2 separate regions of the Homo sapiens genome follow, and region 2 is linked to region 1. The links come from fine-mapping of genetic effects on gene expression. A gene starts in region 1. The other region holds a variant in brackets. All regions are shown on one strand. Distances are from middle to middle.

Region 1 (5,388 bases):
CTGACTGTTATAAATATTAATTGGTGGATTAATTCTCCTGCTTTTAGCCCTGAATTGGAGGATTAGTTGAAGAGAGCTTGTATTGGGGACTAGGCTTAATGATTTCTGTCCTGCCTTCTTCTTTCCACCTTCCTACCTTCTTGTCTTCTCCTGTCCTCTTTCTTTTCTGAATGGTCAGATTAATTCCCAGCATCTTCATAAAACATTCTCTGATTATTTCAAACAAATTGGGTGTTTGCAGTGGTATACATCTAATCTCCAGGCCCCCAAGCAGAATTTCACAAAGAAGACCTCCTCCAGACTATTTTTCCCCAAAGAATACCCTGCGAGGCAGCCTGTGGCACTCTTGTTTTGCAGGAACACTTCAAGCACTGTACAGCTGCTGGGCTGTGCCTTTCTTTGGCTTAAGACCGGTTTCATTAACAAGCATGTTCACACTTCAACCGGAACATTTAAAATAACACCCGCACAATGTGTTTAGTGTCTAGTTAATTATTAAGTCTCTGAGCTTGAATTATTCAAGCAAAATTGATTGGGTTCAAGCTCCTTCCTTCTCTTTGTGTGTGTGTTTTTTAAAATAAAAATAAATTCTGCTCTCTACTTTCTAAATAATGTGGAAAGGGTTATTTAGCAACCATCAATACCCTGGACTGTGGGTGGTACCCAAGCGCTAATAGAATAGGTAAAGAACTGACAGCTTGACTCTTTTGTTAAAAAAAAAAAAAGTATCTACATCTCATATACTTCCATTGTCAATTAGCATTTAGTGAGACCTAACATGTTTTAGGTTCTCCTTTAAACTTCTTTCTAGTTATTTGTAAGTTGGAAAAGCAGGTATCTTGGAGCCATTTCTTTAGTTAACCGTACTTGAAAAAGCAGAAGAAATTGCTTCCTTCTTTGCTACCGCATCTTATGGTCAAATGAAACTGTTAAAATTGGCTTCACCATTAAAATCCATGTTGTTGAAGAATGTTTGTTGAACTGAAAAAATGTCCATAATATATTGCTAATTGCAAGCAAGAGGCTATAAAACTCTTTTATTATGTATCATTTTTGTTAAAGTGCATAGGAAAAAGACTTGAATAATAAACACCAAAATATTGCTTATTATCTGTGTTAGGATTAAACTTTTCTACTACTTTTAGAATTAGACAACACACACCCATATAAAGATGTCATGGCTGGAAATGACTGACCTTTTGTTTGAATCTAAGTATCATTCATGTCAAGACCGCATTGAAAATAATGCTGTTCTTAAGCCAGGCAAGTGTAGACGTTGTAGATTTCATAAAAGATTCACACTATTTCATGAATCACAACTTGAATCGACTTCTGTTAGCCTTCATTTTACGTCTAGGCCCTCATTTCTAATTCTTCCTCAGCTTCCATATTATCAAGATGTAAGATGCAATTGTGGACATGAACATAGAAACACAACCGCCTCACAGGTGTGGGGAAGGAATATAAAATAATTGTATTTTAGAGAACGACCATAAAGGAGATGGCAATTTTGAGAGAAAGTAACAGAACTGCAATGACCTAGTTTTGTGGTGTTAATTTAAATGTGGCATCTTCCATGAGAATTTTATAAAGGGAGCTCTCCTAAAACCGAGATTCACAAAAACCTGGAAGGGCCCTACAGGGATCAGGTGCCCTAGCTATTCAGCGATTTGCCTTTGCTTCCCTAATTCCTGCATTGTGCCACTGGGTTACAAGTGTGTGTGCGCATGCACACAGGGGTGTAGGTTTGATGACAGTGGTGAACTGCCTTGACTGCCTTCACAGGCTGAATCCCCCGCAGGCAGTAACCATGGCTAGGGAAAAACAGGCAGCCGCGAGGACAGTTCCGGAGGAGACAACACCAGGCTCCCGTAGGGAAACTTTTGGGAATGGAGATGGGGGATTCCATCCTTTGCGTGCAGACCCAAGACTTCGATGGTAGCTCGGACAAGTCTGTCATTGTTTTTGTCCTGGGAAATGACACACGAAGTGCTGTAATTAGACACCTAAGAAACGATTACTCTGGAGTGTGCGCGAACCGAATCTGGGGGGCCGGTGGGGAGCAGGTAAGGGGCTGAAAGGCACCGTCTCCTCCAGCTCTGTCGGAAGCCTAAAGCCCTCTGCTTCTGGGCGCCCTTAACAAACGCGCCAGACAGGTGATGTCTCCGAGGACGAGCAGGAGCCCCCCTTCGCGATCTGCACCAGAAGCCTCGGGGAGCCGGGGCCACGGCGCGGCGGTGGCGCAGTTCCCAGCCTGCGCCCAGTCCCGCCGCAGCTCCCGGCGCGGCCCGGTCATCCCGCCTCCATATGCTCCGCCACCGCCGCCCGGGCCTCCCTCAGCCCTCCCGCAGCTCCGCATTCCACGCTGCGGCAGCCGCAGCCTCGCCGCCTAGGCAGTCCACACCCCTCCCCTCGGGCTGGCGCAGCCACTCGGGCCCCGAGCCCGCGCCCCCTTGGGGGCCTCCGCTGGGCGCGCCGGCCGGACCCCGCCCGGCTTGGCCGCCGGCTGGGGCTGAGGCTCGGGCAGGGCGGGGGCGGGGAGTGGAGGGCGTGTGCGCGCGCGTGTGCCGGGGCCGGGGGGCCAGGCCGCCATATTGGATCCAGACTCGTCCGCAAGCCTCCGCCTCTGTGCGGCGGGACTGGAGGAGCCTCGCTGAGCCCAGGGCGCGAGCGCGAGAGGAGAGGGAAGGCGGGGGAGGGCTGGAAGGGAGAGGAAGGGAGTGGTTGGGAGCCGGGCTGCCGCAGCCTCTAGTCTCCTCAGCCGCGGAAGCGACCCCTCCTCCTGCGCCGGGCCGCCTCCCTCCTCGCTGTGGAAAGATGCCCTTAGCCCAGGGGTGTGAAGAAGGGGGAGAAGTAGCTGCCAGAGCCGCCCGCGCCGCCGCCGCAGCTGCTGCTGCTTGTGTCCTTTGAATTCAGAGAAGCACCCCCCCGCCTGGGGCGTCGGGAGCCTCCGGCGCGGCGGCCCGGTGCGGGTGTCGGGGAGACCGGGCTCTCTGCCCGGCGCGGCGCGGCGCGGCTCGGCCCACGAGCGACCACCGACATGGAGTGGGCTCGGGCGGCCAAGTAGCCGCTTCTCCGGAGCCCGGTGCCAGTGCCGCCCGCAGCCCGCCTTCCACCCCCGGCCGCGCCGCCGGTCAGGCCCTAGGGTGAAGCCGGGAGGAAAATGAAGAGTTTTCACCGGAATCCGTTGAAAATAGGACTGACTGCAAAGCCTTAAAGAAAGAAGGACCTCGGGAGGAGAAACGAAAAGCCGCCTCCGGGCAAGACTTGGCGTGCTCCGAGCCGAGGGGCTGCTTCAGGGACCTCGCCCCCTCCCTTTCCCGCTGGAGAAATTGCCGCTGATGCATTATCCAAGTGGTGGTTGGGAGGATTTGCAGCAACATTTTTGGTTTTCCCTCCCCCTTCTATGCATTCTGTTTTTTTCCTCCCTTTTCTGTTTTTCTTCTTCCCGGGAAGTGAATTGCTGATGCAAATCGGACTTTATTCATTAATGATGCAACCGGATTCGTTTCAGGATTACGTTGCACGAGTTGAATTTTGAATGAAGGAGAAGAGTTTTTTTTTTTTTTTTTAAAGAAGTGTTGACTCTCTAGTTCGTTGTACTTTTAATTATTATTTTATTTAAATATACGACTTAATTGTATTCTTTTAAAAATGCATTAAGTATATATTTTATGGTAATTTACCCTCAAAATATATGTATATGGGTGAAATTGAAGACGCTTCAGTTAAGTGAGGTTACTGGTGTGTTGGATGTTTAATTCAGCACCAGCATTGCATGACAGTTGTTTGAATAACAAGTGGTTTATTTTTAAAACCATACCTTTTAAAATTTAGGTTCAGATAATAGTAAAAGTCATCATAATAATTTAAAGGAAAACCAGCAGAAATCGAAGCAAACATGTCTGGAGAAGTGCGTTTGAGGCAGTTGGAGCAGTTTATTTTGGACGGGCCCGCTCAGACCAATGGGCAGTGCTTCAGTGTGGAGACATTACTGGATATACTCATCTGCCTTTATGATGAATGCAATAATTCTCCATTGAGAAGAGAGAAGAACATTCTCGAATACCTAGAATGGGGTAAGTTTGTAATTTTTAAAGAAACTGTTAATCTTTAGCTGGTCATTATGATTTAATTGGTATAGAGAGTTATGAGTAAACTCTACTCCGTTCAAAGAAAAAATACAATAAAAAAACAGACACTAGTTATTCAAGATTTTCCGCTAGTTTTTGGTAAATATTTTCCCAGGAGTAGAATTGTGCTGCTCAATTGTTGCCTTGATTTAAGGCCTAGCTAATGTGGAACTTGGCTATGAAGAACTTATGTTTTTAGGTCAACAGTAAGAGATTTTAAATCAATTCTGTGATGGGCAAAAGTGGATTATTGGTTACAGTTGCCTAATACATGGCACTATAATAGTCCTTCATTTGAAAGGTATTTATTGGTGGAAACATTCAGACTATGGAAATTATTCTCAAAATAGGAGGAGATATTAAAATATCTGTGTTTGCCTTAGGTCAACAGAAAGCTGAAGGTGGTGATCAGTGGGTTTTATTTCATCTCTACATAGTACAAGGAAAGGAAACTGCTAAACATGGACTTTCCAAAAATTATGTTTGTAAGATTAAATGACATAGTTTAAAAATCTTGTGATAGTAGTTAGAGAATGTTTGGGGGCAGCTTCCACTTGAGAGTTAGATTTTACTCGAAAGTTAATTTAAATCTAAACTGGTTAGGTTTTTGGCTTCATTCTTCTAAATATAGATGTGATTTAGAAGACCTACTGTAGTGGAATAGATCAATGATGTGAGCAAACGCTCCATGACCTTCAAGCTTGAAGGCTTGGCTCAAGTTCTTCAGCGTCTGCTGTTACATACAGGGCACATTCTAAGGTCCAGAAGTTCACTGTTGCAATAAGCACGCATCGTCACCCAGATCTGTCTGTAGTAGTGGTACGTTGGCTTTTGAAGGATTTTGGCCAAATATGATTTTGTACCTTTGGAATACTAATCATTTTAGTTTGTTCTTATGCTAAGTTCTTATGCTAAAATATCTGTTCCCAAGTAAAACTTTATTTTCCTGAAGTAAAAGTCAAGTGCTGATTGTGTCTTTTTTTTTTTTTTTTTTTGGATTTGAAATTTATTCAAAGTTAGTTTCTCAGGTAAACCACTGATACAAGAATGTCTACACGTAATAACTTTAATTATTCAATTTGCCAGTATAAGAAGGTTTCTAGCAATGTGATGTCATAAGGTTTAAAAAAATATGTAAATGTGAATAGAATAACTTTTCAAAACAGACTGCCAGACTCATCCTGGGAATGTAAGAAATCTAAACCATCTTTCAAGTAACTTCTCACTTAAGAGTGAGACAATTTTGGCTTTGGTA
Region 2 (5,388 bases), 290 kb after region 1:
TCCACCCGCCTTGGCCTCCCAAAGTGCTGAGATTATAAGCATGAGCCACTGCGCCCAGCCCAGATTGCATTTCTAAAGATGGAACATGAAAAAAAATATATACAACTTGATTTTCACATTGTTCTATTAGTACCAGAAGAGGCAACAGCTATTAAAATGTGTTTGTTTGGAGGTTTTTCTTCTAGGGAAAAACTAAATGCTGGGTGAAATAAAGAGAAACCAATATAACTTGGTATTCATAAATACAGTATTCTAAGTTTTATCTTTATGTCAACTTAGATCATGGGAAAACAATGCATTGTTAGCCATATAAAAACTTCTGAAAAATAAGTTCTCTGTTTTTAAAAATGGGAATCCTATGGTGACGTTCCCTAGAATTTAGTGCCAGTAGAAAAGTTTCCTTGAAGATTTGGCATACTTTTACACAAGAATCCTTTGGGGTTTGCCTTGGCTGCCAGAAATCTCAGGACTCAAATTTAATACGTACTATAGGTGAGTTAAATTATCTTATGATGGGTTGGATAATCTTTTTTTCCTGTGACTTCTGATGTCTTATTCTTCCGTATGTGCATCTGTAAGTTGACTTACATCCTTTTGAGTATAATTGGGATATGATTAATCAATAAAACTATATTTTGATTTATTATTCTTTCTGTGTTTAGAAATTATTAGAGTTGGTGACAATAAGAAGATTCATCAGATTGAACTCATTCCAAATGATCAGCTTGTTGCTGTGATCTCAGGACGAAATCGTCATGTACGACTTTTTCCTATGTCAGCATTGGATGGGCGAGAGACCGATTTTTACAAGCTGTCAGAAACTAAAGGGTGTCAAACCGTAACTTCTGGAAAGGTGCGCCATGGAGCTCTCACATGCCTGTGTGTGGCTATGAAAAGGCAGGTCCTCTGTTATGAACTATTTCAGAGCAAGACCCGTCACAGAAAATTTAAAGAAATTCAAGTCCCATATAATGTCCAGTGGATGGCAATCTTCAGTGAACAACTCTGTGTGGGATTCCAGTCAGGATTTCTAAGATACCCCTTGAATGGAGAAGGAAATCCATACAGTATGCTCCATTCAAATGACCATACACTATCATTTATTGCACATCAACCAATGGATGCTATCTGCGCAGTTGAGATCTCCAGTAAAGAATATCTGCTGTGTTTTAACAGCATTGGGATATACACTGACTGCCAGGGCCGAAGATCTAGACAACAGGAATTGATGTGGCCAGCAAATCCTTCCTCTTGTTGTAAGATTCTCTTTCTTACGGCTGTCTTATCTTTATATCTCTTCTTCCTTTTCCCTTCTACTTCGTCTCCCAAATGTTGTCATTGTTGATAACAGTTTTTTAAAAAAGTCATTCTTAATGCTTTTCCTCAGTATTGATTATGTTGTTGATGTAAAAACCATATGTAGTTAGGCCTGGGCAAACAGGGCCAGCATTAGCATGCACGTAATTTAAACAAAACATCTTTCTGTGGAATATTTCACTAAGATGGATTTTTTACCCCACATCATATTTTGAAATAACCCAGAATTGTTATCTCATGGTCCCCCAAAATATGGTGCTTGTAAGCATCAGTGTTTCACAGAACTTATTCTGGAGAAGTAGTTACTAAGTGAGTTATTTAATCAGGTATGTAAAGGTATAATGTAACATCTATAAGAGGTGTTTTTTCAGTTTTCCACTTTTATCTAGATGGGTAGATATTTATAATTGCTTATTTTACCCCTTCAAGAAATATTAAGACATAATAAATTATTGAATACTTTTTTTTTTTTTTGAGAGATGGAGTCTTGCTCTGTCACCCAGGATAGAGTACAGTGGTATCGTCACAGCCCACTGCAGCCTCCAACTCTTACACTGAAGCAGTCCTCCTACTTCAGCCTCCCGAGTAGCTGGGACAGCAGGTGCACACCACCACACCCAGCTTATGTTTTTATTTTTTGTTTTTGTAGAGATGGTCTCATTAGTTGTTCAGGCTGGTCTCAAATTCTTGTCCTCAAGCAATCCTCCCAACTTGGCTTCCCAAAGCACTGAGATTATAGGCTTGACTCACCACACCCAGACTCATTGAATACTTTTAATTATAGAATACTTTGGTTATTGAAAATAATCCAATTATTATTGAATATGTGCCATTGAATATGAGTTAACAGCAATGAGTAAAATAGATACAGTCTTAACCCCACAGAGCATGGGGTGCAGTGGAAAAGATTCGTGATAAAGCAAGTAGTTGCAGTAGAGTGTAAGTGCTATGATAGCAGAAGTAGAGAGTTCTGTAGAAGCACATAGAAGTATTTCATCCAAACTGTTTTGTTTTTAATGAAAAATACTTGAGCATGTTAAAATGCTGAAGGGAAAAAAAACCCTAGGGAACTACATGGAAAAGTTGTCTATATGGGAAATAGAGTAAGACCGCCAAGAAGGCCAGAGAGGACAAAATTCAGAAGACAGGTGCAAGAATTACTTGGGGGCAGGAGGAGTAAAACCTCTTCATTTGTAACAAGGTAGGAGGAGGAGTGATGGGTATGGGTCTAGTCAAGTTTAAAGGTTCAGTGCGAGAAAGTTTGGGAGGGCAACCCATGCTCATTACAGAAAAATCAGAAAGTCTGCGTGAACAGGACAAAAGAAAAATACCTCTAGTTCTACCCATCCAGACTTTTTTTTCCCCCACCCTCCATCCTGGGATGAACGACTTAACTATTTTTTGTTGTTATTGTTGTTGTTTTTTGTCTTTCCAGCTTTTCAACTGCAGATCTTGGGAATTAACTATTTTTAATATTTTGTTTCTTCTGAAAAATATGGTCTTAGGTGGGCACAGTGGCTTACACCTGTAATCCCAGCACTTCAGGAGGCTGAGGCAGGAGGATCGCTTGAGGCCAGAAGTTCGAGGCCAACTTGGGCAACATAGCGAGAACCTGTCTCTATAAAAAATTTTCTTTAATTAGCCAGGTGTAGTGGTTGCATGCCTGTTGTCCCAACTACCCAAGAGGCTGAGGTAGGAGGATCACTTGAGCTATGATCATGCCATTGCAC[T/C]CCAGCCTAGGCAATACAGTGAGACCTTATCTCTAAAAACACAAACCCACACACACTCTCATACTCATCAGTGGAATAAATGCTGTCTTGTAACTGAATCAGATAATAATTATGATTATTCTAATGTAGAGTCAGAGTTGGAATGTCTGACTTTTTTGTGTAGCTCTTTCAATAATTCCCTTTGTAACCTTAGTTTAAGTAAACCATTGAATCTTTCTTTGCTTGTGTCACCATTTGTTGATATTCATTCTTTCAACAAGTGTATATTGAGCATCTACCCTATTCATGTAACTGTGCTACAGTGCTTTATTATACATTCTTAACAGGGACTAGAACACTTACCTGAAGATTTCTCTGCTTTCTAAGTTTGATTCACTGTCAATAACTTAACTACTTTTAGGAATCAAATAGTTCAAATATAATGAAATTCCTTTATAGAACTCATGTTGGGCAAAGAAATAGTATACCCCTGGTGTTTACAGAATCCGTCTATATTATAACGGCTATATAATCTGAATCATGGTATACCAGTTCCTCATTTACGATATATGTTCTGTTTGCTTCAAAAATGTTTTGATTTGGCTACTATATGATAGCCCCATAGGATTTGGGTGGGATTCCACTCTACAGTTATTTAGTGTAGACCTTTCAAAATATTTGGGGTTTAATAGTTAAAAGTAATCCGCAAGCTGCCCCCCCTTCCCTTCTCCCAGGTTACAATGCACCATATCTCTCGGTGTACAGTGAAAATGCAGTTGATATCTTTGATGTGAACTCCATGGAATGGATTCAGACTCTTCCTCTCAAAAAGGTAATTTAACATTAAAATGTGGGCTAAGCCAACTGAGTATAAGTGAAAACACTAAATTACTACATAGTAATTTTTTTTTTATTAATTCAACATTTTCTGGAATGTGTAATTGGCAGTTTGGGACTTAGCTAAGAGTGAGAAAATAGAAACAGAAATAAAGTTGGTTAATTTCCTTATGCCTCACTAAAACCATACTAATTTTACTATATTTGGTTTATGCAAAGTATGATTGTTATTATTATGAACAACTAGAATATATCCTACAACTTAAAATGTCAGTGTTATCTTCTACTTTTGGATTAAGGAGCTCTGAGAGAGTACATGATTATTATGAATTATAACTGTCATTCACCCAGTGTTTAATCCTGTGAGGACAGATTTAAAAGGCTAGAAAAGTAATTAAACTTAGAACCAAAACTGTTTAAGTGTCCATAATTGAAAAATAAATATTTCATATATTCCTAATAAAACATAATATTTTTCTTAATATATAATCCTGTTTCCATAACAAAGAGAATTTTTACAATTATAGAACTGCTAGTTTGCAAAAATGAAGAGCAATAGTTTCATATAGATAGATGTGATATATATATAGCATGTATGATTAGTTGGGGGACAGGGTTTAGAGAATATGTGAAAGTAGCTTAGATCATATTTCAAAATTAGCACCCATTTAAAATCATAATAGCAGTTTAAAAAGCTCTTGTAAATACTGCCAGATTATCTAAAGCAACTAAAATATACTCTAGTTTGTAAATTTGGATTGGTCATTATTACTTTTCTGTGGATTTTTTTGTTTTGTTTTTGTTTTTGAGACAGGGTCTCGCTCTGTCATCCAACCTGGAGTGCAGTGACATGATATCAGCTCACTGCAGCCTCCATCTCCTGGGTTCAAGCAATTCTCCCACCTCTGCCTCCAGAGTAGCTGGGACTACAGGTGTACACCACCATGCCCTGCTAATTTTTGTGTTTTTAGTAGAGACAGGGTTTCACCATGTTGGCCAGGCTGGCCTCGAACTTCTTACCTCAAGTGATCTGCCCGCCTCGGCCTCCCACGGTGCTGGAATTACAGGCATGATCCACTGCACTCAGCCCTATTTGATTTTTATCATGTAATTTTTGCAATGTATGTGAAAGAATAGATATATGGCCTTTGTGAAAGATAATAATAAACTGATCACTCATGAACCTACCTCCTAACCTGAGAATCAGAACATCACTCATATAACTGCAAACTGCGTCATGTTGTGCTTATCATTCCTTTGCTTTTCTTAAAATACAGAATTTTTGCATATTTAAGTATCCCTAAATAATATATCTTTCAGTTTTGCTTGGTTTTGAGCTTTATGAAAATGTTATAATATATAGTCATTTTCTATCTTGCTTTCTTTACTCATCCACTGAGTCTCATTCGTTCATGTTGTTATATATACCATATAGTTTATTGCTTTCAGTACTATAAAATATTCTGTTGGGTGAACTTAGCACTACTGTCTGTTCCCTGACTGGGGGACATTGAATTATTTACTA

Direction of the effects. Positions count from the first base shown, and alleles are read on the strand shown. Sizes are in standard deviations (SD) of each study's normalised expression.
In carriers of allele T in region 2, the expression in putamen of the gene that starts at base 2,592 in region 1 tends to be higher than with C alone (small effect, 0.21 SD a copy in GTEx).

The links. PIP is the estimated chance that this variant, and not a neighbour inherited with it, causes the effect. A credible set is the group of variants that fine-mapping cannot tell apart.
Region 2: its variant is the best candidate, but not a certain one, in a credible set for the expression of CDC42BPA in putamen (GTEx, PIP 0.85).

Annotation. Positions count from the first base shown.
Region 1 is chr1:227,315,696-227,321,083 of GRCh38, reverse strand. It overlaps CDC42BPA (CDC42 binding protein kinase alpha), which reads left to right and starts at 2,592. Exons shown (of 37, transcript NM_001394014.1): 1 at 2,592-4,079. The coding sequence starts at 3,902. LOC124904531 (a long non-coding RNA gene) reads right to left here and starts at 2,492. Exons shown (of 2, transcript XR_007066911.1): 1 at 2,086-2,492; 2 at 1,023-1,970.
Region 2 is chr1:227,024,525-227,029,912 of GRCh38, reverse strand. It overlaps CDC42BPA (CDC42 binding protein kinase alpha), which reads left to right. Exons shown (of 37, transcript NM_001394014.1): 30 at 663-1,256; 31 at 3,761-3,858. Among named protein-coding and RNA genes, the nearest start is that of COQ8A, 87 kb to the right of the region's middle. The variant T/C (reference allele first, on the strand shown) is at 3,048.